Linked DNA regions of Homo sapiens: regions 2 and 3 are each linked to region 1. The links come from fine-mapping of genetic effects on gene expression. A gene starts in region 1. Each other region holds a variant in brackets. All regions are shown on one strand. Distances are between the middles of the regions. Region 1 holds the start of CNPY4 (canopy FGF signaling regulator 4). Region 2 holds the start of COPS6 (COP9 signalosome subunit 6). Region 3 holds the start of LAMTOR4 (late endosomal/lysosomal adaptor, MAPK and MTOR activator 4).

Evidence for each region. PIP is the estimated chance that this variant, and not a neighbour inherited with it, causes the effect.
Region 2: its variant is fine-mapped to the expression of CNPY4 in unexposed skin (GTEx, PIP above 0.99). The same link has a PIP of 0.9 or more in atrial appendage, esophagus muscle, left ventricle, thyroid, visceral fat and whole blood.
Region 3: its variant is fine-mapped to the expression of CNPY4 in whole blood (INTERVAL, PIP above 0.99).

Annotation. Positions count from the first base shown.
Region 1 is chr7:100,114,792-100,122,236 of GRCh38, reverse strand. It overlaps CNPY4 (canopy FGF signaling regulator 4), which reads right to left and starts at 2,603. Exons shown (of 6, transcript NM_152755.2): 1 at 2,375-2,603. The coding sequence starts at 2,492. It overlaps TAF6 (TATA-box binding protein associated factor 6), which reads left to right and starts at 2,879. Exons shown (of 15, transcript NM_139315.3): 1 at 2,879-3,033. RefSeq lists enhancers at 1,907-1,976, 2,347-2,566, 2,777-2,926.
Region 2 is chr7:100,082,716-100,089,068 of GRCh38, reverse strand. COPS6 (COP9 signalosome subunit 6) reads right to left here and starts at 100. Exons shown (of 10, transcript NM_006833.5): 1 at 3-100. The coding sequence starts at 78. RefSeq lists a silencer at 51-240 and enhancers at 1,287-1,980, 6,120-6,353. The variant G/A (reference allele first, on the strand shown) is at 3,030.
Region 3 is chr7:100,141,704-100,152,580 of GRCh38, reverse strand. It overlaps LAMTOR4 (late endosomal/lysosomal adaptor, MAPK and MTOR activator 4), which reads right to left and starts at 3,663. Exons shown (of 4, transcript NM_001008395.4): 1 at 3,606-3,663; 2 at 3,002-3,082. The coding sequence starts at 3,608. RefSeq lists silencers at 3,094-3,183, 3,194-3,283 and enhancers at 2,823-3,435, 3,584-3,693, 3,964-4,023, 4,048-4,660. The variant A/G (reference allele first, on the strand shown) is at 5,632.

The DNA of each region.
Region 1 (7,445 bases):
GGGGGGAGGTAAAAGACAAACACACCAGCCATTCATTCTGCAGATGACCTGAGGCAGCAGAGCATACAAGTGCAGACTATGGAGCCAGACTGGCTGGGTTGGAATCCTGGCTCAGCCATTTAGCAGCTGTGTGGCAATCTTCCTGCTTGCTGTGCCTCGGTTTCTTCATCTTTTTTTTTTTTTTTTTCAGACGGACTCTCGCTCTGTCGCCCAGGCTGTAGTGCAGTGGCGCAGTCTCGGCTCACTGCCAGCTCCGCCTCCTGGGTTCACGCCATTCTCCTGCCTCAGTCTCCCGAGTAGCTGGGACTACAGGCACCCACCACCACGCCCGGCTAATTTTTTGTATTTTTAGTAGAGACAGGGTTTCACCGTGTTAGCCAGGATGGTCTCGATCAGCTGACCTTGTGATCCGCCCGCCTTGGCCTCCCAAAGTACTGGGATTACAGGCGTGAGCCACCACGCCCGGCCGGTTTCTTCATCTTTATAATGGGATAATAGGCCAGGAGTGGTGGCTCACACCTGTAATCCCAGCACTTTGGGAGGCTGAGGCGGGCAGATCACTTGAGGAGTTCAAGACCAGCCTGGCCCACATGGTGAAACCCCATCTCTATTAAAAATACAAAAACTAGCCAGGTGTGGTGGTGCGCACCTGTAATAGCTACTCGGGAAGCTGAGGCAGGAGAATCACTCGAACCCAGGAGGTGGAGGTTGCAGTGAGCTGAGATCCCACCACTGCACCCCAGCCCAGGCAACAAAGGGAGACTCCATCTTAAAAAAAGTAAAATACATTAAAAATAAATAGGCCAGCACAGTGACTCATGCCTGTAATCCCAACACTTTGGGAGGCTGAGGTGGGTGGATCACGAGGTCAAGAGATTGAGACCATCCTGGCCAACATAGTGAAACCTTGTCTCTACTAAAAATACAAAAATTAGCTGGGCATGGTGGCGGGCGCCTGTAATCCCAGCTACTTGGGAGGCTGAGGCAGGAGAATCGCTTGAACCCGGGAGGCGGAGGTTGCAGTGAGCGAGATTGCACCACTGCACTCCAGCCTGGGCAACGGCATGAGACGCTGTCTGAAAAGAGAAAAAAAAAAAAAAAAAAAAAAAAAAAAAAAAAATATATATATATATATATATATATATAAAATTAATACAATTGGATAATAATAGTATGTCCCTCATAGGAGTGTGATGAAGATTAAATAAATCAACATATATAAAGGCTGGCACATAGTGAGCACTGTATAAGTATTCACTGTTATCCTGCAGTTATTTATTGAGCTCCTTCTGTATGCATACTAACAATATAGACAGCAATAAGACCTATTATCTCTATCTACAGGTCTCTGTCAGTGTAGTTGGGACAGATAAACCAAGGATGACAAGCTGTGGTGAAGCTGGGCCTGAACTCATGGGCTCAAGTGATCCTCCCACCTTGGCCTTCCAAAGTGCTGGGATTACAGATGTGAGCCACTGTGCCCAGGCCCGTTGGCTGTATTCTGATAGAAGGCCTGCAGAGGTGTTAAAGCAAGGACTGATACAATTAGGTGATTAAGTCTGTTTAAAAAGATTGACAGGTCAGGGGAGAAGAGCGGCACACGGAGGTGAAAGGAGACAGAGATGAGGACCAAGTCATGAGACTGTCATGACTGCCTTTCATGATACTGGAATACAGTTGAGGGGGTGAAGCGAAGAGAAAAGGAATCCAGGGAAGAAACGTAAAGTCAGGAGGGCAGCAAACTAGGGCATCAGGGCCAGCCCCCTTTCTCAACTGGGCCCCACGCTAGTGCAGCTATGGAAGGCGCTGCTTGCTGAAAAATCCATATAGTACGCACCGTCTGCAAAGTCTCACCGGATGGGGACACTCTCCTAGTTGTGTGGCTTCCTTTTGTTTATGAGCTTCAAAGGCTGAATTACTCACCCTCAAACCCCCTCAGCGGGGTGTGGGGCCTGTAATTTGGGAGCGTCTATGCTAGGGTAGGGCAGCGGATGTCCACAAGGCCTGAGCCTCACACCCGGCTCCTGCAGCCTCTGCAGATTAAGGTCTGGTGACATGAGGTAAACACTCACTGAAGATGCTCTAAAAGTTGGCAGTCCCGGGCCGATGGTCCCTGAACTACAATTCCCACAATCCATTGGCGGGCGGGGGGTTCCAAGCCAGCCAAAAAAATGCAGGCTCTCTCTGGATGCAGTTTGAGGTGGCACTACACGTTCGCTTCCTTGACCCCATCCAAATTCAGCCAAGCTCCACCAGAACCTCCCTCAAGCCTTCAAGGAGGTCGGGTGACCCACCCAATACAGGCTAGGATGTCCGGCCTAGAAGAAGGAGGTGTGGCCGGGCGATGCCTATAGGGGCTACCCCCTTCAAATACCTTCGCATTTGCTGGGCAAGCGTTCTGTGTCATCGTCCTCCTCCTTCAACATCCCAGCCCAAGCCTCGTGCACGGCCAAAAAAAGGAAAAGCAATATTCCCAACCGCACAGGTCCCATGACAAAGCGCCGTCTACAAACAATCACCGCTTGCCTTCAACTTCGGGAAGGTAGTGTGGGTCCCTTAAATTCCCAGGCGGCTAGCGGCAACCTTAAATCCAGCCGAGGAAGGTCGGCGCATGCGCAGGATCAGCCCAACAAGGGTGGGGCCTCGTTGCTACGGGTTTCCCTGCCTCCGTTTTGTGGCGCCTCTTGAAGGTCCTGGCAGCCGGGTAGTGAAGGAATAAATTGCAGTAATTACACCAAGAGGGAGTGCTCCTTATATATAGATGTAGAAACAAACTTTTAAAATATAATTTCATTCTGCGAGCCTAGAGGACTTATTCTGGTACGGGGAAGGGGCAGTGACTTGCTCTTAGGCTCTGCCAGGACCTGCTCCCACGAGGGGGCGGGGCCAAGATGGCGCCGAGCGCCGGGTGAGCAGCGTCTCGGCTGCCGCTAGAGTTTTCCTGCTCCCCGCGCTCGGGTGGCGGGGGCGGGTCTGAGTGGTACCCCGGAGGAGACCCTTTGAAGGTCCCTTGTGGGGACTGGAAAGAGGACGGTTGGTTGTGTGTCTGTGCTCGTGGGGACCCCGTGTGTGTGCCTGCATTGGAGAGATGTTGCAGGAGATGGGGTGGGCTCTCTGAACCTCCTTTCGCGCTGCCCGGGGATCTTCGACCTGCTTCTCTGCTGGGATCTCGCTTAAGTTAACCCTTCCCTGGGACGCCTTCCTGCCGCCTCCACTGATCTGAGGAGATCCTGTGACTGTAGCGTGTTTTATGAGCCTTTACTGGCAGAGGGTACCGCCGGGTATTGAAGGATTCGTAGGAGTTCGCCAGGGAAGTGGGACACGACCCCCTCTTGTAAACCCGGCGCCAGGCACAGAGTATGTCTCGAATAGTTGTGTTCCCTATAGATAAGACTTATAAAAGTCGGGGAGGAGATCAGGGATGGTTTGAAAAGAACCAATTTGTTTTTCGGCCTCCCTCTTCCCATCCTTCCAGCACGGCCCCACCCTACCTGTACTACTCCTAAGCAGTATTGATATGTTAATCTTCCTAATGTCCAACTGCAAGTGTGCCACTTTAATTTTTTTTTGTTTTTTTTTTGAGACAGGGTTTCCGTCTGTTACCCAGGCTGTTGTGCAGTGGCACCATCTTGGCTCACTGCAGCCTCCAACTCCTCAGTTCAAGCGATCCTCCTGCCTCAGCCTCCTAAGTAGCTGGGATGACAGGTTCACACCACCAGGTCCGTCTAATTTTTTAATTTTTGCAGAAATGGGGGTCTCACTATGTTGACCAGGCTGTCTCAAACTCCTGGCCTCAAACAATCCCCCCACCTCTGCCTTCCAAAGTGCTGGGATTACTGGGGTGAGTTACCTCTCTTGGCTCCAATTTGCTTTTTTTTTTTTTTTGAGATGGAGTCTCTCTCTATCGCCCAGGCTGGAGTGCAGTGGCACGATCTCGGTTCACTGCAACCTCCGCTTCCTGGTTCAAGCGGTTCTCCCACCTCAGCCTCCCAGATAGCTGGGACTACAGGCGCCCGCCACCATGTCTGGTTAATTTTTGTGTTTTTACAAAAAGACAGGGTTTCACCATGTTGGCCAGGGTGGTCTCGAACTCCTAACCTCAGGTGATCTTCCCGCCTTGGCCTCCCAAATTACAGGCGTGAGCCACTGCACCTGGCTCCACTTTGCTTTTTTTGTTTTTTTTTTTTTTTTGAGACAGAGTCTGGCTCTGTTGCCCAGGCTGGAGTGCAGTGGTGCGATCTCGGCTCACTGCAAGCTCCGCCTCCCGGGCTCACGCCATTCTCCTGCCTCAGCAGCCTCCCGAGTAGCAGGGACTATAGGTGCCTGCCACCATGCCTGGCTAATTTTTTCTATTTTTTAGTAGAGACGAGGTTTCACCTTGTTAGCCAGGATGGTCTCAATCTCCTGACCTAGTGATCCGCCCGCCTCGGCCTCCCAAAGTGCTGGGATTACAGGCGTGAGCCACCACGGCCGGCCCAGTTTGCTTTTAACTACAGTGTAGGCTCAAAGCTTGGGCCTATGACCTATTAATAATAGTGATACCAAGTATTTACTGAGCACCAATATCTCTAAGCCTTACAACTAATTCATTTACTTCACAAATATTTATGATGTCCCAGGCTGGGCTCCTGGAATACATCAGTGAACATAATAAAGAGCTCTGTCGGCCGGGCACAGTGGCTCACGCCTGTAATCCCAGCACTTTGGGAGGCCAGGGTGGGTGGAACACCTGAGGTCAGGAGTTCAAGACCAGCCTGAGCAACATGGTGAAACCCCATCTCTACTAAAAATACAAAAATTAGCCAGGTGTGGTGGCGCATGCCTGTAATCCCAGCTACGCAGGAGGCTGAGACAGGAGAATTGCTTGAATCTGGGAGGCGGAGGTTGCAGTGAGCCAAGATCGCGCCATTGCTCTCCAGCCTGGACAACAAGAGTGAAACTCTAGCTCAAAAAAAAAAAAAAAAAAAAAGAGCCCTGTCTAGATGGTGGACGGAGACGGGGTCTCACTCTGTTGCCAGGCTGGAGTGCAGTGGCACAACCTCTACTCACTGCAACCTCCACCTCCTGGGTTCAAGCAATTCTCCTGCCTCAGCCTCCCGAGTATCTGGGACTACAGGTGCACATCACCACGCCCAGCTAATTTTTGTATTTTTAGTAGAGATGGGGTTTAACCATGTTGGCCAGGATGGTCTCGATCTCTTGACCTCGTGATCTGCCCACCTCGGCCTCCCAAAGTGTTGGGATTACAGGCGTGAGCCACTGCGCCATGCCCAAAAGATGTTAAATGCTATGGAAAAGAAAAAGTGGGCTGCCCCCACTCTGAGGGCAGAGTGCAGAGTTAAATAGGGTGGTCAGGGTAGGCAGCCAATTAGATATTTGGGAAGAACATTCCAGGCAGAGGGAATGCAGCAAAGGCTATTAAGCAAGTACATACCTGGCAAGTTTAAGGAGCAGCCAGAAGGAATGTATGTGTCTGGATCAAAGTGGAAGAAGGAAGGGCGTTCAGAGATATAATGGGGAGAAGGTAATTTTGAAGGGCTTTGTAGGACATTATAAGGATTTCGTCTGTTTTTTTTGTTGTTGTTGTTGTTGTTTTTGAGAAGAAGTCTTGCTTTGTTGCCCAGGCTGGAGTGCAATGACACAGATCTTTGCTCACTGCAACCTCCGCCTCCCGGGTTCGAGTGATTCTTCTGCCTCAGCCTCCCGAGTAGCTGTGATTACAGGTGCCCGCCACCATGCCCATCTAATTTTTTTATTTTTAGTAGAGATAGGGTTTCACCATGTTGGCCAGGCTGGTCTTGAACTCCTGCCCTCAAGTGATCCGCCCACCTTCGTCTCCCAAAGTGCTAGGATTACAGGCGTGAGCCACTGTGCCTGGCCTGAGATGGGGTTTTGCTATGTTGCCCAGGGTGGTCAGGAATTCCTAAGCCCAAGCAGTCTTCCCACCTCACCCTCCCAAAGTGCACAGATTACAGGCATGAGCTGAGCCACTGCACCTGCCCATTATAAGGATTTCAGGTTTTACTTTATGGCAAGTGGAGAGCCATTATGAGGGTTTGAGCAAAGAAATGACAATCTGCTTTACAGTTTGACAGAAGCATTTTGGCTGCAACGTTAGGAATAGATGTAGAGAAAGGCAAGGGTAGACTCCGGTTGACATTGTTAGGAGGTTTTTGGAGTTACCCAGTGGATAGATGATGGTGACCTGGGCCAAGCAGTGGGAGCAGAGGAGTCAGGTTGGACTACCTGGTGGATTGATTGATTTTTGAGACAGAGTCTCGCTCTGTCGCCAGGCTGGAGTCCAGTGGCACGATCTTGGCTCACTGCAACCTCCACTTCCCAGGTTCAAGTGATTCTCTTGCCTCAGCCTCCCGAGTAGCTGGGACTACAGGTGCGTGCCACCACGCCAAGCTAGTTTTTGTATTTTTAGTAGAGATGGGATTTCACCATGTTGGCCAGGATGGTCTCCATCTCTTGACCTGGTGATCCGTCCGCCTCGGCCTCCCAAAGTGCTGGGATTACAGGTGTGAGCCAACGCGCCCGACCGGATTTATTTTTTTACCTTTTTTTTTTTTTTGAGACAGAGTCCATCTGTCACTGAGGCTGGAGTGCAATGGCGCAATCTCAACTCACTGCAAACTCTACTGCCGAGGCTCAAGTGATTCTCCTGCCTCAGCCTCCCAAGTAGCTGGGATTACAGGCACGCGCCACCATGCCCAGCTAATTTTTGTATTTTTAGTAGAGAAAGGGTTTTACCATGTTGCTCAGGCTGGTCTCGAACTCCTGACCTGAAGTGATCCACCCACCTTGGCCTCCCAAATTGCTGGAATTACAGACGTGAGCCACCGCACCTGGCCTACCTGGTGGATTTGATGTGAAGGCTCAGATAAAGAACAAGTGTCTGGATGGATGGCATTGCTATGAAGATAAGGAAAGCTGAGCCTGGGCCAGACACTTCGGCTCACGCCTTTAATTCCAACACTTTGAGAGGCCAACGCTGGAGGATTGCTTGAGCCCAAAACTTCAAAGTGGTGGGATTGAAGCCCTGAGGTGTAACAGAAAAAGATAAAAATCTGGGCTGGGCCTGGTGGCTCAGGCCTGTAATTCCAACACTTTGGGAGGCCGAAGCAGGAGGACTGCGTGAGCCCAGCAGTTCAAGACCAGCCTGGACAACATAGTGAGACTCTGTCTCTGCCCCTGCCCCTGCAAAAAATTGGCTGTGTGTAGTGGTACACACCTATAGTCCCAGCTACTTGGGAGGCTGAGGTGTGAGGATTGCTTGAGCCTAGGAGCTCCTGGGCTCTATCAGTTTTCCCACCTCTGCCTCCTGAGTAGCTAGAACAACAGCCCTGTGCCTGCATACCCAGCTAATTTTTGTATTTTTTGTACAGATGGGGTCTCACTGTGTTGTCCAGGCTGGTCGTGAACTGCTGGGCTCAAGCGAT
Region 2 (6,353 bases), 33 kb after region 1:
ACCTGCTGCATCCACCTCCATCCCGCTGCTTCCTCCGGTCCCGTTCGTAGCTGCAGCCGCCGCCGCCGCCGCCGCCATTTTCCCCGCGCCCGCCAGCCTCGGCCCCGCCCCCTTCCTTCCCGGCTTCCGTAAGGCGAGCGGCGCATGTTCGGTGTCCCCGCGGCGTGCGGCGGGCCTGGCGTCCGGGGAGCAGGCAGTTCCCGGGTCGCGGCGGGCGGCACTCGGTGCGGGGACGCCCGACGCCCTCTGGGCCTCGGTGCCTAGCGGGTTTTCCCAGACCCTGTCCCCGCCTGTCGCCTGCGGGTGACCTTTGACAAATTAACGACTTGATCGTCCTCGTCTGTGAAATTGGGATAAGAACGCCTAGTTCTTAAGGCTGTTGCAGAAGGAATGACATGTCGTGTTATTTCCCTCACAATAAAATCCAAACAACTAACCACAACCTGCAAGGCCCTGCCTGATCTGGCCCCGGCCTGGCCTCTTCTAGCCCTTGATCTTCAGGCTTCAGCTGCACTGGCCCTCATGTCTGGTGGTGGTGGTGGTTTGTTTTGTTTTGTTTGAGACAGGGTCTCGCTCTGTCGCCCAGGCTGGAGTGCAGTGGCCTGATGTCAGCTCACTGCACCCTCAAACTCCTGGGCTCAAGTGATCCTCCCAGTTCAGCCTCCCGAGTAGCTGGGACTACAGGCGCACCCCACCGCACCCAGCTAATTTTATTATTTGTTTTTATTTTGATAGAGACGGGGGTCTCACTAGGTTGTCCAGGCTGGTCTCCAACTCCCGGGCAGAAGAGATCCTCCATCCTCAGCCTCCCAAAGCACTGGGATTACAGGCATGAGCCACCGCACCCAGCTCTCCGTGTGTTTTTCACATGCTTTAGTTTCCCATTCAAAAGCCTGTGGTTCCTTCTCTTGTTCATCATGGTATCCCCTGTGACCAACACGGTGCCTGACACATTGGAGCCTAGATACTTTTTGAGTGAATGAAGGAATAATTAGGGGTGGAATCTGGTGTTGAGTTAGTTGCTCCATCTTGTGAAAGTTGCAGATACCAGGACAAAATCACATTGTCAGGTCCAAACAAATTGGAGCCATGAGAACACCAAGGAGAAGGTCTCATGCTTGCATGTCTGAGATAGGAATTATCTCAAGGACTTTCGAAAATAACCCCACAAGGCCAGGCATGGTGGCTCACACCTGTAATACCAGCATTTTGGGAGACCGAGGCCAGACAATCACTTGAGGTCAGCAGTTTGAGACGAGCCTAGCCAACATGGTGAAACCCCATCTCTACTAAAAATACAAAAATTAGCCAGGCGTGGTGGCAGGCGCCTGTAATCCCAGCTACTCAGGAGCCTGAGGCAGGAGAATTGCTTGAACCCGGGAGGTGGAAGCTGCAGTGAGCTGCGATCGCGCCACTGCACTCCAGCCCGGGCAAGACAAAGTGAGACTCCATCTCAAAAAAAAAAAAAAAAGAAAGAAAGAAAGAAAGAAAGAAGATAACTCCACAAGGCCAGGCATGGTGACTCACGCCTGTAATCCTAGCACTTTGGGAGGCCAAGGTTGGAGGATCACTTGAACCCAGGAGTTTGAGACCAGCCTTGGCAACATGGTGACACCTTGTTTCAACAAAACATGGAAACAAAATTCGCTGGGTATGGTAGAGGCATGCCGAGGAAATTTATGCTTGGGAAGTGAGTCAAAACTCCCTTCCTTTTTGTTCCCAGATAGCTGTAATTCCACAACCCTGTGTCATAGCCTCATACATAAGCCAGGCTCCTACAATGGCAAAAGGCATATACCTCCCCAGATGGTCTTCCTCACAAATTGCTTGCCAGGAAATTCCTCATTAGCCTCTGAATCTTTCAGCATAAACATTCCCCCTATAAACCAGCCCTAATCCGAGTTCTGTGAAATCTCATACTGACAATGTTGATTACAAGCTTATCTTCCCAATTATAGAACAAGGAAGAGACCAGGAATCATCCCTCCACCTATCCTGAGACAGATGCATAACTGACTTTTTCCTCCACTCCCTCTTTTCAAATGTTTATTGTATCTTACATAAAATGTAGATTTACTGAACACTAATGAGAAACTCACAAAAAAGTAACAATGTGCAGCAGGGTGTGCAGTGGCTCATGCCTGTAATCGCAGCACTTTGGGAAGCGAGTGGATCACTTGAGGCCAGGAGTTCAAGACCAGCCTGGCCAACATGGCAAAACCCCATCTTTACTAAAAATACAAAAATTAGCTGGGTGTGGTGGTGCCCACCTGTAATCTCAGCTACTTGGGAGGCTGAGGCAGGAGAATCACTTGAGCCTAGGAGGTGGAGATTGCAGTGAGCCGAGATGGACCCACTGGACTCCAGCCTGGGCAACAGATTGAGACTCTATTTCAAAAAATAAAATAAAATAACCATTTGCTGGACTGGGTGCAGTGGCTCACGCCTGTAATCCCAGCACTTTGGGAGGCCGAGGCAGGCAGATCACAAGGTCAAGAGATTGAGACTATCCTGGCTAACACTGTGAAACCCCGTCTCTACTAAAAATACAAAATATTAGCTGGGCATGGTGACACGCACCTGTAGTACCAGCTACTTGGGAGGCTGAGGCACAAGAATCGCTTGAACCTGGGAGGCAGCGGTTGCAGTGAGCCGAGATTGCGCCACTGCACTCCAGCCTGCTGACAGAGCGAGACACTGTCTTAAGAAAAACAAAACAAAACAAAACAAAAAACATTTGCCTCACTGCCTCTCCTTCTTCCTTATTTTCCTCTTGCATGCTTTCTTCCCTTAAATACTGAGTTCCTGGCCAGGCACAGTGGCTTATGCTTGTAATCTCAGCACTTTGGGAGGCCGAGGTGGGTGAATCACCTGAAGTCAGGAGTTCAAGACCAGCCTGGTCTCGACCAGTAGAGATGGTGAAACCCCATCTCTACTAAAAATACAAAAATTAGCCAGGCGTGGTGGTGCATGCCTGTAATCCCAGCTACTCGAGAGGCTGAGGGAGGAGAATCACTTGAACCCGGGAG[G/A]CGGAGGTTGCAGCGAGCCGAGATCACACCACCACACTCCAGCCTGGTTGACAAAGCAAGACTCTGTCTCATAAAAAAACCCAAAATTCACATCTGGCTAGCCTAGGCTGCTCCACCCCCTCCTTACCCCTAAACCTAAGCAAGTTGCACACACTGCTCCTCCTGCCACCCCTACAAAGAGGGGTACAGACACCTAGAAAGAGCCAGACATACTCTGGCTCTAGGTGTCTGTATCCCCACCCAAAGTGTAAGCTCCTAGAAAGCAGGTGAAGAACTGTGTTATGACCCTGAACAGCCCCATATGGTGATAGTTGTAATTTACAGGGGAATTATGCAATCTCTCCGTTTAGGAGCCTGGATGAAGGAAACTTGAAGGGGCCAGCAACCCTCAATGGAACGGACTTGAGAAATCCTGCAGGAAGAGGGGTCTTCTCGCCAAAGGGAAGTTAAAAAGGAATTTATTTTATTCTAGTCCCCAGTGATAAACCAACCAGGTCTGGACAAACTGAGAGGGTTGTCAAAGAAAAGTACCTAATGCCTTGTTTCTATTTGGAAAAACCAGGTCAGAAAAATGTATCTCTTTGGTGAGATGTTGGCTCACTGCAACCTCCACCTCCTGGGTTCAAGTGATTCTTGTGCCTCAGCCTCCCAAGTAGCTGAGATATCAGGCTTGCGCCACCACACCTGGCTCATTTTTGTATTTTTAGTAGAGATGGGTTTTCAGCATGTTGGCTAGTCAGTTCTCAGACTCCTGGCCTCAACCGATCCACCTGCCTCGGCCTCCTAAAGTGCTAGGATTACAGGTGTGAGCCACCGTGCCTGGCCAGAAAAATGTCTCTCTTTAAAGAATGCTAGGCAGCTTCCAAGGAGCATAGTGCTTCTCAGCTAGATAGAAGGCTAAAATAAAAACAAGATGAGAATTATTCTAGGGTTAGTAAAGTTGATCGTTTGCACTGCTCTCTCACACATTAAAGAACTCCTTTGCCTTGTTGTTTCAGGTGCTTTTGAAACATTGTTCAGATAATTATACAGCTCATAAAACAAGAGATTATTGTGGAATTTAAGGATGACTTTGACATTGAATCAGTTGATTGTGCGCATTTTAGAACTAAGTTTGCTAAACGTTTCTTTTTTTTTGTTTTTGTTTTGTTTTGTGTTTGTTATTGTTGTTTTTGAGACAGAGTCTTGCTCTGTCACCCAGGCTGGAGTGCAGTGTTACAATCACAATTCAGTGCAGCCTCAACCTCCTGAACTCAAGTGACTGTCCCATCTCAGCCTCCCAAGTAGCTGGGACTGCAAATGCGTGCCACCACGCCAGGCTAAATTTTGTATTTTTTGTAGAGATAGAGTTTCGCCATATTTGTTTGTCTCAAAACAAACAAACAAACAAACCAAAAAAATATCCCCACCCCAAAAACAAAAACGAACAAAAAGCAAGTGCTCCTTTTTGGTATGGGTCAGTGGTTATCTATTCACCTATCAGTCATTAATTTAACAAATATTTGGGAGTGCCTACCAGGCAGCAGGTACATCACTAAACAAAACGAAGTCCTGACCTCATGGAGCTTATACCCTAGTTGTAGGAAACAGACCATAAACATACTTCAGGATACGTATATATATACAGAGATGGAGTATCCCTCTGTCGCTCCCAGGCTGGAGTGCAGTGGTGCGATCTCGGCTCACTGCAACCTCCACCTCCCAGGTTCAAGCCATTCTGCCACCTCAGTCTCCCAAGTAGCTGGGATTACAGGTGCCTGCCACCACTCCCGGCTAATTTTTGTTTTTGTATTTTTAGTAGAGGCAGGGTTTCACCATGTTGGCCAGGCTGGTCTCAAACTCCTGACCTCAGGTGATCTATCTGCCTCGGCCTCCCAAAGTGCTGGGATTACAGGCGTGAAGCACTGCACCCGGCCAACAAATTGAATTTTAAAGATTGAGTTGGCTTTATTAGGGATTCATGAACTGGCAGCACCCAGTCTACAAAACAGAAAGGAAGCCAGGTGTGATGGTGCGTGCCTGTGGTCCCAGCTACTCTGGAAGCTGAGGAGGGAGGATCGCCTGAGTCCAGGAGGTTGAGGCTGTAGTGAGGTAGGATCGCGCCACTGCACTCCAGCCTGGGTGACAGAGTGAGACCCTGTCTCTAAAAAAAAAAAAAAAAAAAAGACTTCATATGTTGAAGAAGGCAGAGGAAAGCATGAACATGATGAGGTGCTTTCCTTCTATTGATGGCTATTGTGATACCTCATTTCTTATCTTCTTAGTTTAAAAGGATTTAAGGCTGGGTGCAGTGGCTCACACCTGTAATCCCAACACTTTGGGAGGCTGAGGTGGGCGGATCCCTTGAGCTCAGGAGTTTGAGACCAGTCTGGGCAACATGGTGAAAACCCTCTGTCTCTACAAAAAAGTAGCCGGGCGTGGTGGCATGCATCTGGGGTTCCAGCTACTTGGGAGGCTGAGGTGGGAGGATCACTTGACCTTGTGAGGTGGAGGTTGCAGTGAGCCGAAATCACAACACTGCACTCCAGCCTGGGTGACAGAGTAAGACCCCCGTCTCAAAAGAAAAAAAAAATTTAAACAAGAAACACACAGGAGGCCGGGCGCGGTGGCTCACACCTGTAACCCCAGCACTTTGGGAGATTGAGGCGGCAGATCATTTGAGGTAAGGAGTTCGAGACAAGCCTGACCAACATGGTGAAACCTTGTCTCTACTAAAAATACACACAAATTAGCCGGGTATGGTATCACACGCCTGTAGTCCCAGCTACTTGGGAGGCTGAGGCACGAGAATCAGCCTGGGTGACAAGAGTGAGACTCCCTCTCAACAACAACAACAACAAAAAAAAAAAAAAAAAAAGGAAAAAGAATAAAAGAAACACATGTCAAAGGAAATCCAGCATAGAGTAATTTATTGCAAAAGGAAAATAGTATTTTGAAAGTTAAGTGCAGAGTAGACAGTACACCCTGGGAGAGAGAGAGATAGAGAGAGAGTTAGTTCAGGGAGGGCTGCTCCTAAGGATGAAACAGCAAAGGCTGGCTCTAGAGAGACCCCCTTTGTAAGGGGTCTTACACGATTATTCATAAGGGGGTGGGAGAAGTGTTACTAGTAAGTATGTTCTGGGTGGTCCTCTAGGTGCACATGCGCAGTGGGTGTACAGGCTTGTTCATACATTGCATGTTTCATTAGCATCTTAAATTTCCACCCAGGGGCGTGTTTTTTACCAAGATAATGAGCAAAGGGTCAGTTTGAGGACAGGTGAAATCAAAATGCGCATGCTCCCTACAGGGGAAAGTCCCTACTGGAGAGCGCTCAGCTTGAATGAG
Region 3 (10,877 bases), 29 kb before region 1:
TCCTTGATATGGGCCTCCACTAGATTTAGTTCCTTTTGCTGAACTAGCAATATATATTAACTGCTATTTTATATCAAACTCAATGTCTAAAGTTGGGCCATCAAATTTCACCTTATCCTTATCCACCTCCTTCCCAATCCACTTCTTTTTTTGATTTCCTGTTTGTTTGTTTGTTTTTTGAGACAGAGTCTCACTCTATCACCCAGGCTGGAGTACAGTGGTGCAATCTTGGCTCACTGCAACCTCTGCCTCCTGGGTTCAAGCAATTCTCCTGCCTCAACCTCCCAAGAAGCTGGGATTACATGCATGTGCTTCCATGCCAGGCTAATTTTTTGTAGAGATGAGGTTTCACCATGTTGGCTAGGGTGCTCTCGAACTCCCAACCTCAAGTGATCCACCCACCTCAGCCTCCCAAAGTGCTGGGATTAAAGGCGTGAGCCACCACGCAGGGACATGTTTCTTAAGGCATCATCACTCTTCCAGGCTTTAGAGTTCTGGCTACAGAAATATTTCCTCTATTACCTATTTCTAGTCATTAGCAAGATATACTGATTCCTCCTTTAAAATAACTTCTTCCAGCCAAGCACAGGAGCTCATGCCTGTAATCTCAGCACTCTGGGAGGCCAAGGCAGGAGGAATGCTGGAGGCCAGGAGTTTGAGACCAGCCTGGGCAACATAGCAAGGCCCCTGTCTCCACACATTTTTTTTTTTTTTTTAATGGCTGGGCGTGGTGGTGCTTGCCTGTAGTTCTAGTTACTTGGGATGCTGAGGCGGGAGGATTGCTTGGGCCCAGGAGTTCAAGGCTACAATGAGATGTGATCGTTACCACTGCACTCCAGCCTGAGTGACGGCGAGACTCTATCTTAAAAAAAAACAAACAAACAAAAAAACAGGACGGGGTGCTGTGGCTCACACCTGTAATCCCAGCACTTTGGGAGGCCGAGGTAGGCGGATCACGAGGTCAGGAGATCCAGACCATCCTGGCTAACATGGTGAAACCCCATCTCTACTAAAAATACAAAAAAGTAGCCGGGCATGGTGGCGGGCGCCTGTAGTCCCAGCTACTAGGGAGGCTGAGGCAGGAGAATGGCGTGAACCCGGGAGGCGGAGCTTGCAGTGAGGGGAGACTGCACCACTGCACTCCAGCCTGGGTGACAGAGTGAGACTCCGTCTCAAAAAAAACAAAAACAAAAACAAAAAAACAGGCCGGGTGCAGTGGCTTATGCCTGTAATCCCAGCACTTTGGGTGGGAGGCTGAGGCGGGCAAATCATGAGGTCAGGAGTTCGAGACCAGCCCGGCCAACATGGTGAAACCCTCTCTCTACTAAAAATACAAAAATTAGCTGGGCATGGTGGTGCACACCTGTAATCCTAGCTAATCAGGAGGCTGAGGCAGGAAAATCACTTGAACCCGGAAGACGGAGGTTGCAGTGAGCTGAGATCATGCCACTGCACTCCAGCCTGGGCCACAGAGCGAGACTCTGTCTCAAAAAACAAAAACAAAAAAAAACAAAAACAAAACTCTTCTCTCCTTGCTCCTCCTTCTTACCACCACTTGCCCAGTCTCATCTCTTTTTTTTTTTGTTTTTTTTGAGACGGAGTCTTGCTCTGTCGCCCAGGCTGGAGTACAGTGGTGTGATCTCGGCTAACTGCAACCTCCACCTTCCAGGTTCACGCCATTCTACTGCCTCAGCTTCCCGAGTAGCTGGGACTACAAGTGCCCGCCACCAGGCCTGGCTAATTTTGTTTTTGTATTTTTAGTACAGACGGGGTTTCACCGTGTTGGCCAGGATGGTCTCGATCTCCTGACCTCGTGATCCGCCCGCCTTGGCCTCCCAAAGTGCTAGAATTACAGGCATGAACCACCACGCCCAGCCCAGTCTCATCTCTTAATGACGCCTCCTTCTGCCCATCTTCACATCACTAACAACAATATTGCTCAACCACCTCACTGGGTCTTGTTTCTGTTTTAAAAAACCTTTCAAACTGTATTACCTTCAAGAATAAGTTCAAGTGTGTTAACCTGGCCTTGAAGATCCTTCACAATTACATCCTCCCTGACCATATCCTCCTCTCTTCCCTCAAACCTTCCCAAATCTTTTCAGCATAAACTTACCATCAGTTCAGATAGGTTAGTGCCACACACCTGCAAATAAGTCCTCCCCCACTGTAAATACTCTCCTTTAAGGTGGGCTGAATTCCTACCTCCCGGAAAGTTAGTTACCTTGTCATAACATGTTGAATTTTTAATATCCTGGATTCCCTCAATAGTCTTTACCACCTGTATTGTTTTCAACCCTTAACCTTAAGCTTTGTCTCTACCTAAGTCAAAAACATCTGGAGACTTAACACTATACAGTACTATGGAACAAAATACAAATGCCTCTTTAAGAAATACCAAATAAAGGCCAGACGTGGTGGCTCACGCCTGTAATCTAGAGACCTAACACCATACAGTACTATGGAACAAAATACAAATGCCTTTTTAAGAAATACCAAATAAAGGCCAGGCATGTTGGCTCACGCCTGTAATCCCAGCACTTTGGGAGGCTGAGGCAGGTGGATCACCTGAGGTCAGGAGTTTGAGACCAGCCTGGCTAACACGGTGAAACCCCGTTTCTACTAAAAATACAAAAAATTAGCAGAGCATGGTGGCACGTGCCTATAATCCCAGCTACTCGGGAGGCTGAGGCAGGAGAATCGCTTGAACCCCGGAGGCGGAGGTTGCAGTGAGCCGAGGTCGCACCACTGCACTCCAGCTTGGGCAACAAGAACGAAACTCAGTCTCAAAAACTATAAATAAATAAATCGCAGCCGTTAGGAGACTAAGATTCCACAGACTGATTACTGAAAGTAATTGCAAAAACTGCAAATACTTTTGTACCAACCTAATAGATGCCAGGCAGGAAACCAGATAAAAGCCGAGAAAAGAAGGGCCAATATTAGAAGGGGTTACCGGGCTGTGTGCACTAAGGGACCCCCTCCCTTTCCCAGAACGCACCGCCAGCACTGCACCTTCACTCAGTACCAGGTAGCCGAGCTGGTCTGGGATTCGCTCCAGCCCCTGGGTCAGCGCAGAAGTCTAGTGGGTAAAGATGCAAGTCGTGAGAAGCATGCTAGAGGGATGGACGGCCCGATACCCTTCACCTGCAAACCCAAGTCTCTGGGTTGACGATGGCCCCAGGTTTTCTCATTCCCCAGCCAGGTCCCTTCCCGGCCCCCTCCCCCCTACATGGTCCTCAATACTGATCTTCCCGAGCCTCCATCTGCCCCCACTCTCGCCCCCGGGCTCCCCTGGCCTTCCACATCCCACCTTTGCTACCCCAAGGGGCCTTTGCTGCCCCACTGGCCCCTGCCCCCAGACCCTCTCTTCACCTCCCTTCGTCTCCGCCCGACCTGCAGACTACCCGCAGCCCCAGAACACCCTCCCACAGACCCCTCCCCAGCATTCTCGTCGCCATCCCTCCCATTTCCATCCCCTCTTCCTCCCCGAGCGGATAGGAGGTGAGGGTGGAGCGCAGGCCCACCAGGGGGAAACCACACAGACTGGGGAGCAGAGACGCTGAACCCCCGGCGGGTCCTCTCGCGCATGCGTCCTCACTCACCATCGCAGTCTTCGGTGCTGGGGGAGCTCCCTACCAGATAGGTAGCTTCCGGCTTCAGGCCCCGGTCACGTGCTTGCAGCCGCTGCGCTCCTCCTTCTGCTTGCGCCACTGGCCTTTAGCCCCGCCTCTAGCATGAGGATTGGACAGTGGCCACGTCGTCAGACCCAACCAGCCAGTGCGAAGCGCTGTTTCCCGGAGGCGCACGTTGATTGGTGATATCCCCTCTTTAACACCCATCTCCCCGCCCCTCAGTGCCTGAGCGAGAGGAAGACGCGGGAGCGTCCGAGGAGGGGAGGATCTGGGAGGGGCGGGAGTAGGCCGGGGTTGACCGTTTGGTCCTGGGCGCACTGTCTGGAGCCAGAGTTCCGCCTGAGCCAGGATGCCCGCTGGTGTGACCCCCCCAAATGAATCCCTTCCCAGGTTTAAGACTGGACCCAAAAACTAGAGAATAAAAGGAAATAACGTGCAATGCATGTGAAAAACTATTCAAGGCTGGGCGCCGTGGCTCACGCCTGTAATCTCAGCGCTTTGCGAGGCCGAGGACGGATCATTTCAGGGCAAGAGTTCGAGACGAGCCTGAGCAACATAGCGAGACCCTCCCCAGTCCCCCCGCTCCAACCACCTCTACAAAAAAATAAGAAAATAAGCCGGGCATGGTGCCTCACGCCAGTAATTCCAGCTACTAGGGAGGCTGATGGAGGAGAATCTCTTGAGCTCAGCAGTTGCAGAGTGCAGTGAGCTATTATGGTGCCACTGCACTCCAGCCTGGGTGCCCTTCCTCTAAAAAAAAAAGAAAAGAAAAGGAAAAAAAAGGTACTCAAATGCTACTTTTTTTTTTTTTTGAGTCGGAGTCTCACTCGGTCGCCCAGGTTGCAGTGCAATGGCGCGATCTCTGGCTCAATACAACTTCCGCCTCCCGTGTTCAAGCAATTCTCCTGCCTCAGCCTCGCGAGTAGCTGGGATTACAGGCGCCCACCACCACGCCCGGCTATTTTTGTGTTTTTAGTAGAGATAGGGTTTCACCATATTGGCCAGGCTGGTCTCAAACTCCTGACCTCGTGATCCGCCCGCCTCGGCCTCCCAAAGTGCTGGGATTACAGGCTTGAGCCACCGCGTCCGGCCCTCAAATGCTACTTTTGTGCCTACTCAAGACAGCTCTTTGTTGAAGACAAGAATTTGTTCCCGAAGTGGTTTTTTTGTCCCCAGATTCAGTCCGGGACAATGTGGTGGTAAATAGAATCCCCAGCTAGCCAATGCAGCTGCAATACTGAATATTCATTCCCTACAGGAAAAAATTAGAAACAGTACCTTGGAATGATACACACACACACACACACACACACACACACACACATCACACAATATATGTAAACATTAGAAATTTTTGTTTTAAATAATTTCTAAACCTGTTGCCATATTAATGTGGTGGAGGCTGTGTTAGTGAAATAATATGAAGAATGATTCTAGAAGCCTGGGCAACATAGCAAGACCCCATCTCTAAAAATTTAAAAATTAACCAGGCATGATACTGCACATGTAGTCCCAGCTACCCGGGAGGCTGAGGTGGGAGAATCGCTTGAGCCCAGGAGGTTGAGGCTGCAGTGAGCCATGATCATGCTACTGCACTCAAGACTGGGTAAAAGAGCAAGATTGTCTCAAAAAGCAACAAAAAAATCTGAATATAATAACAATTGTTAAAGTCTGGGTGTCTTTTAAGACTTGTTAGAAACAGCAATTTCAAGGCTGGGCGTGGTAGCTCACACCTGTAATCCCAGCACTTTGGGAGACCAAGGCGGGTGGATCACCTGAAGTCAGGAGTTCGAGACCTGCCTGGCCAACATGGTGAAACCTCATCACTACTAAAAATACAAAACAAACAAACAAAAAAAAAAAAAACTAGGTGGGTGTGGTGGTGCATGCCTGTAATCCCAGCTACTGGGGAGGCTGAGGCAGGAGAATCCTTGAATCCAGGAGGCGAAGGTTGCAATGAGCTGAGATTGTGCCATTGCACTCCAACCTGGGCAAC[A/G]AGAATGAAACTCCGTCTCAAAAGAAAAAAAAAAGATTTTGATGTAATAAATTATGGTGGCAGTATTCTTGATATTTAACCATCTTTGTGTTTCTGGAATAAAATCTGCTGGAACAAATTATACTACCCATTTGTTTTACTGCTTTATTTAGAATTTTTAAAATCTATTATGATAAATGAGATTGGGCTGTAGTTTCTTTTTGGTATATTCTTTATCTGCTTTTGGTAGAAAGAGCAGGTTGCCAGATAAAATGAATCAGAGAGTTTCCTATCTTTTTTATCTATGGTCTGCAAATCAAACTGGTTGGACCAACTCACACTCCTCTAGCAATGTGTCAGAGTTCCCAGTTATCTCCAGCTCCATTAACACATGGTATTGCCACACTTTTTGTTTTTTGTTTTTTTTTTGAGACAGTCTTGTTCTGTTGCCCAGGCTGGAGTGCAGTGGCGCAATCTCAGCTCACTGCAACCTCCACCTCCTGGTTCCCGGGTTCAAGCAATTCTTCTGCCTCAGCCTCCCGAGTAGCTGGGACTACAGGAGCGCACCACCACACCCAGCTAATTTTTGTATTTTTAGTAGAGATGGGTTTCACCATGTTGGCCAGGATAGTCTTGATCTCTTGACCTCGTGATCTGCCTGCATCAGCCTCCCAAAGTGTTGGGATTACAGGCCTGAGCCACCATGCCCAGCCAGTATTGCCACACTTTTAGGGTAAAGTTTTTGGATATGCGATGGCTTCTCATTGTAGTTTTTATTTGCATTTACCTAAATATTAATGAGGTTGATCACATTTTCAGACAGGTTTGGCTTTTGGGATATCATCTTTTGTGAAGTATCAGTTCAACTTTTTTTTTTTTTTGAGACAGAGTCTTGCTATGTTGCCCAGGCTGGAGTGCAATGGTGCGCTCTTGGCTCACTGCAACCTCCGCCTCCTGGATTCAAGCAATTCCCTTGCCTCAGCCTCCCAAGTAGCTGGGACTACAGGGGCACGTTGCCATCCCGGCTTTTTTTTTTGTATTTTTAGTAGAGACGGGGTTTCACCGTGTTGCCCAGGCTGGTCTTGAACTCCTGAGCTCAGAGCAATCCACCTGCCTCGGCCTCCCAAAGTGCTACGATTACAGGCATGAGCCACTGCAACTGGCTTATTTATTTATTTTTTTTTTGAGATAGTCTTCCTCTGTTGCCCAGGCTAGAGAGCGGTGGTGCGATCTCGGCCCACTGCAACCTCCACCTCCCAGGTTCAAGCAATCCTCCTGCCTCAGCCTCCCGAGTAGCTGGGATTACAGGCACGCACCACCAGGCACGACTAATTTTTTTGGGTTTTTAGTAGAAAGGGGGTTTCACCATGTTGACCATGTTGGCCAGGCTGGTCTCAAACTCCTGACCTTAAGTGATCTACCCACCTCGGCCTCCCAAAGTGCTGGGATTACAGGCATGAGCCACCATGCCGGCCCAGTTCAACTCTTTTCTCATTTTTCTATTGAGTTTGTCTCTCTCTTTTTTTTTTTTTTTTTTTCCCGCCCAGGCTGGCTAGAGTGCAGTGGCGTGATCTCAGCTCACTGCAAACTCCTCCTCCCGGGTTCACATCATTCTCCTGCCTCAGCCTCCCGAGTAGTTGGGACTACAGGCGTCTGCCACCACGCCCGGCTAATTTTTTAGCTCAGGAGTTTGAGACCAGCCTGGCCAACGTGGCCTGTTGTGGGAAGTCAGGGACCCCAAACGGAGGGATTGGCTGAAGCCATGGCAGAAGAACGTGGATTGTGAAGATTTCATGGACATTTATTAGTTCCCCAAATTAATACTTTTATAATTTCTTACGCCTGTCTTTACTGCAATCTCTGAATGTAAATTGTGAAGATTTCATGGACGCTTATCACTTCCCCAATCAATACCCTTGTGATTTCCTATGCCTGTCTTTAATCTCTTAATCCCGTCATTTTGGTAAGCTGAGGAGGATGTATGTCACCTCAGGACCCTGTGATGATTGTGTTAACACAAATTGTTTGTAGAGGATGTGTGTTTGAACAATATGAAATCTGGGCACCTTGAAAAAAGAACAGGATAACAGCAATGTTCAGGGAACAAGAGAGATAACCTTAAACTCTGACTGCCGGTGAGCCGGGTGGAACAGTGCCATATTTCTCTTCTTTCAAAAGCAAATGGGAGAAATATTGCTGAATTCTTTTTCTCAGCAAGGAGCATCCCTGAGAAAGAGAGTGTGTCCCTGAGGGTAGGCCTCTGAAATGGCCGCTTTGTGGGGCGGCCGTCTTTCATGGTCGAAGCTGTAGGGATGAAATAAGCCCCAGTCTCCCGTAGCGCTCCCAGGCTTATTAGGACGAAGAAATTCCCGCCTAATAAATTTTGGTCAGACCAGTTGTCTGCTCAAACCTGTCTCCTGATAAGATGTTATCAATGACAATGCGTGCCCGAAACTTCATTAGCAATTTTAATTTGTCCCGTCTTGTGGTCCTGTGATCTCGCCCTGCCTCCATTTACCTTGTGATATCTTATTACCTTGTGAAGCATGTGATCTCTGTGACCCACACCCTATTCGTACACTCCCTCCCCTTTTGAAAAAATCACTAATAAAAACTTGCTGGTTTTTATTAGTCATCACGGAACCTGCCGACATGTGATGTCTTCCCTGGACACCCAGCTTTAAAATTTCTCTTTTTTGTACTCTGTCCCTTTATTTCTCAGACCGGCCGACTCTTAGGGAATATAGAAAAGAAGCTATGTGAAATATTGGGGGTGAATTTCCCCCGATAGCGGCCAAATCCTGTCTCTACTAAAAATTCAAAAATTGGCTGCACATATTGGCAGGCACCTGTAATCCCAGCTACTCGGGAGGCTCAGGCCTTGAACCTGGGAGACAGAGGTTGCAGTGAGCCAAGATCGCACTACTGCACTCCAGCCCGGATGATAGAGCGAGACTCAGTCTCAAAAAAAAAAAAAAGGAAAAAGTAATAATAAAACCACAGAATGAAGTTAAAGATAACTTTAGGCTGGGCGCAGTGGTTTACGCCTGTAATCTCAGCACTTTGGGAGGCCGAGGCAGGCGGATCACGAGGTCAGGTGTTAAAGACCAGCCTGGCCAACACTTTGAAACCCCGTCTCTACTAAAAATATAAAAATTAGCCAGGCGTGGTGGCATGTGCCTGTAATCCCAGCTACTCAGGTGGCTGAGGCAGGAGAATCGCTTGAATCCGGGAGGTGGAGGTTGCAGTGAATGGAGATCACACCACTGCACTCCAGCCTGGACAACAGAATGTGACTCCTTCTCAAAGAATAGACAAATAAATAAATAAATAAAAAGATAACTTTATTGGTGACTAGGGTTGTGTCAAAAGAACTCAAAGGCCAACTTGAAGAGGCTTCCACTGGACAAAAAAAAAAAAAGAATATTTTGAAATCAATCAGGACAATAACTGCAGTGAATTGAAACATAACAAACATGCCTAAATCCACAAACTTATTTTTAAATTTTTGTTTGTTATTGTTTGTTACAGAGATGAGGTCTCGCTATGTTGCCCAGGCTGCTCTTGAACTCCTGGTCTCAAGTGATCTGTGCCTCAGCCTTGCACAGTGCTGGAATTTCAGGTGTGAGCTGCACTGCCCGGCCACTGAGATCTTAAAATTGGACTTTCATTTCCTTCAACATAGTAAGTGTTACAATCTGTGTCTGATAATTCCAACATCTGGAGTCCTTGTGTGTCTGTGTGTGTCCATGTTTCTGTAGTCTGTTGTTTCTATTGTTCTGGCTGCCCTGCTTTATTACCTGCTTTGTGATATTTGATTGTTTTCTGGACATTTTATTTGAAAAAATACTTTTATGTATACCGTTAAGACCTAAGGCACTATTATCTTACTCTGAACAGTTTCCACTATTAGATATCTAAGGTATTTAACAGTTCAGACACATGGTTTGAAGTTCTGTGGCCACACAGAAAAATTCCTGGGAGTACAGTCTACCCCAACAAACAGAGTAAAATTCTTCAGTTTTCAACCCAGTACAGGGACTGTTACATAGCATCTTCCATTTGGTGAACGTTAAGCTCCAACTCCCATTGTGCTAATGCATGAAAGCCACCAAAAATACATCTCTGCCTTTCAGTGAATGCCCATGGATTAGAGTCTCAACAAACAGCAGAAGATGCTTCTCTAAAGTTTACCTTCCCAGTTGCTGAAGGACTTTCACCCATGTTCACTCTATCTCTCTTGTTTTTTGGACACGGGGTCTCACCTTGTTACCCAGGCTGGAGTGCAGTGTCGCAATCTCAGCTCAATGCAGCCTTGACCTCCCAGGTTCAAGCGATCCTCCTGCCTCAGCCCCCCAAGTAGCTGGGACTACAGGTGCATGCCACCACACCTGGCTGTTTTTTTTTTTTTTTTTTTTTAAAGAGATGGGGTCTTACTATTTTGCCCAGGCTGGTGTAAAACTCCTGGGCTCATGTGATCTTCCCACCTTGGCCTACCACCTGCTGGGATTACAGGCATGAGCCACTGTACCCGGCCCACTCTACTCTTGAGAATGGCAAAAGCCAAGCTTTATGTCTCTGCTGTCTTTACTCACAAATATCCCTGGTTTAGAATCACCCCTAAGCCATCTATTTGAGCTCCAGTCCTTTTCCCTGTTCTCTCCTGATAATTCTTCAGTGTCATACAAGGTCTTTGATGCATTTTAAATATTTTTATTTTATTTTATTTTTTGAGACAGAGTTTCTCTGTGTCACCCAGGCTGGAGTGCAGTGGCACAATCTCGGCTCACTGCAACCTCCACCTCCTGGGTTGAAACGATTCTCCTACCTCAGCCTCCCAAGTAGCTGAGATTGCAGGTGTGCACCAGCATGCCTGGTGAATTTTTGTATTTTTAGTACACATGGAGTTTTGCCATGTTGGCCAGGCTGGTCTCGAACTCCTGACCTCAGGTGATCCACCCGCCTTGGCCTCCCAAAGTGCTGGGATTACAGGTGTGAGCCACTGTGCCCAGCCATAAATATTTTTATTTTAAATCTTTTTTCAGTTGTCTTTATTGGGGGTAGTCAGGCCAAAAGCCACAGTTCATTTGCAGATTGTTCTTTTTTTTCACGCTTAGTAAACAGCATAGACCAACCACACCTTCCTTTATTGGGAAATCTTATCTCATCTTGGCTTTCATAATATCACTTCCTTCAATGCACACGTGAGCAACTTGAAAATGAGGTCCACATGGGATCCATTTTGCTGGTGAGGGTGGTATTAGAGG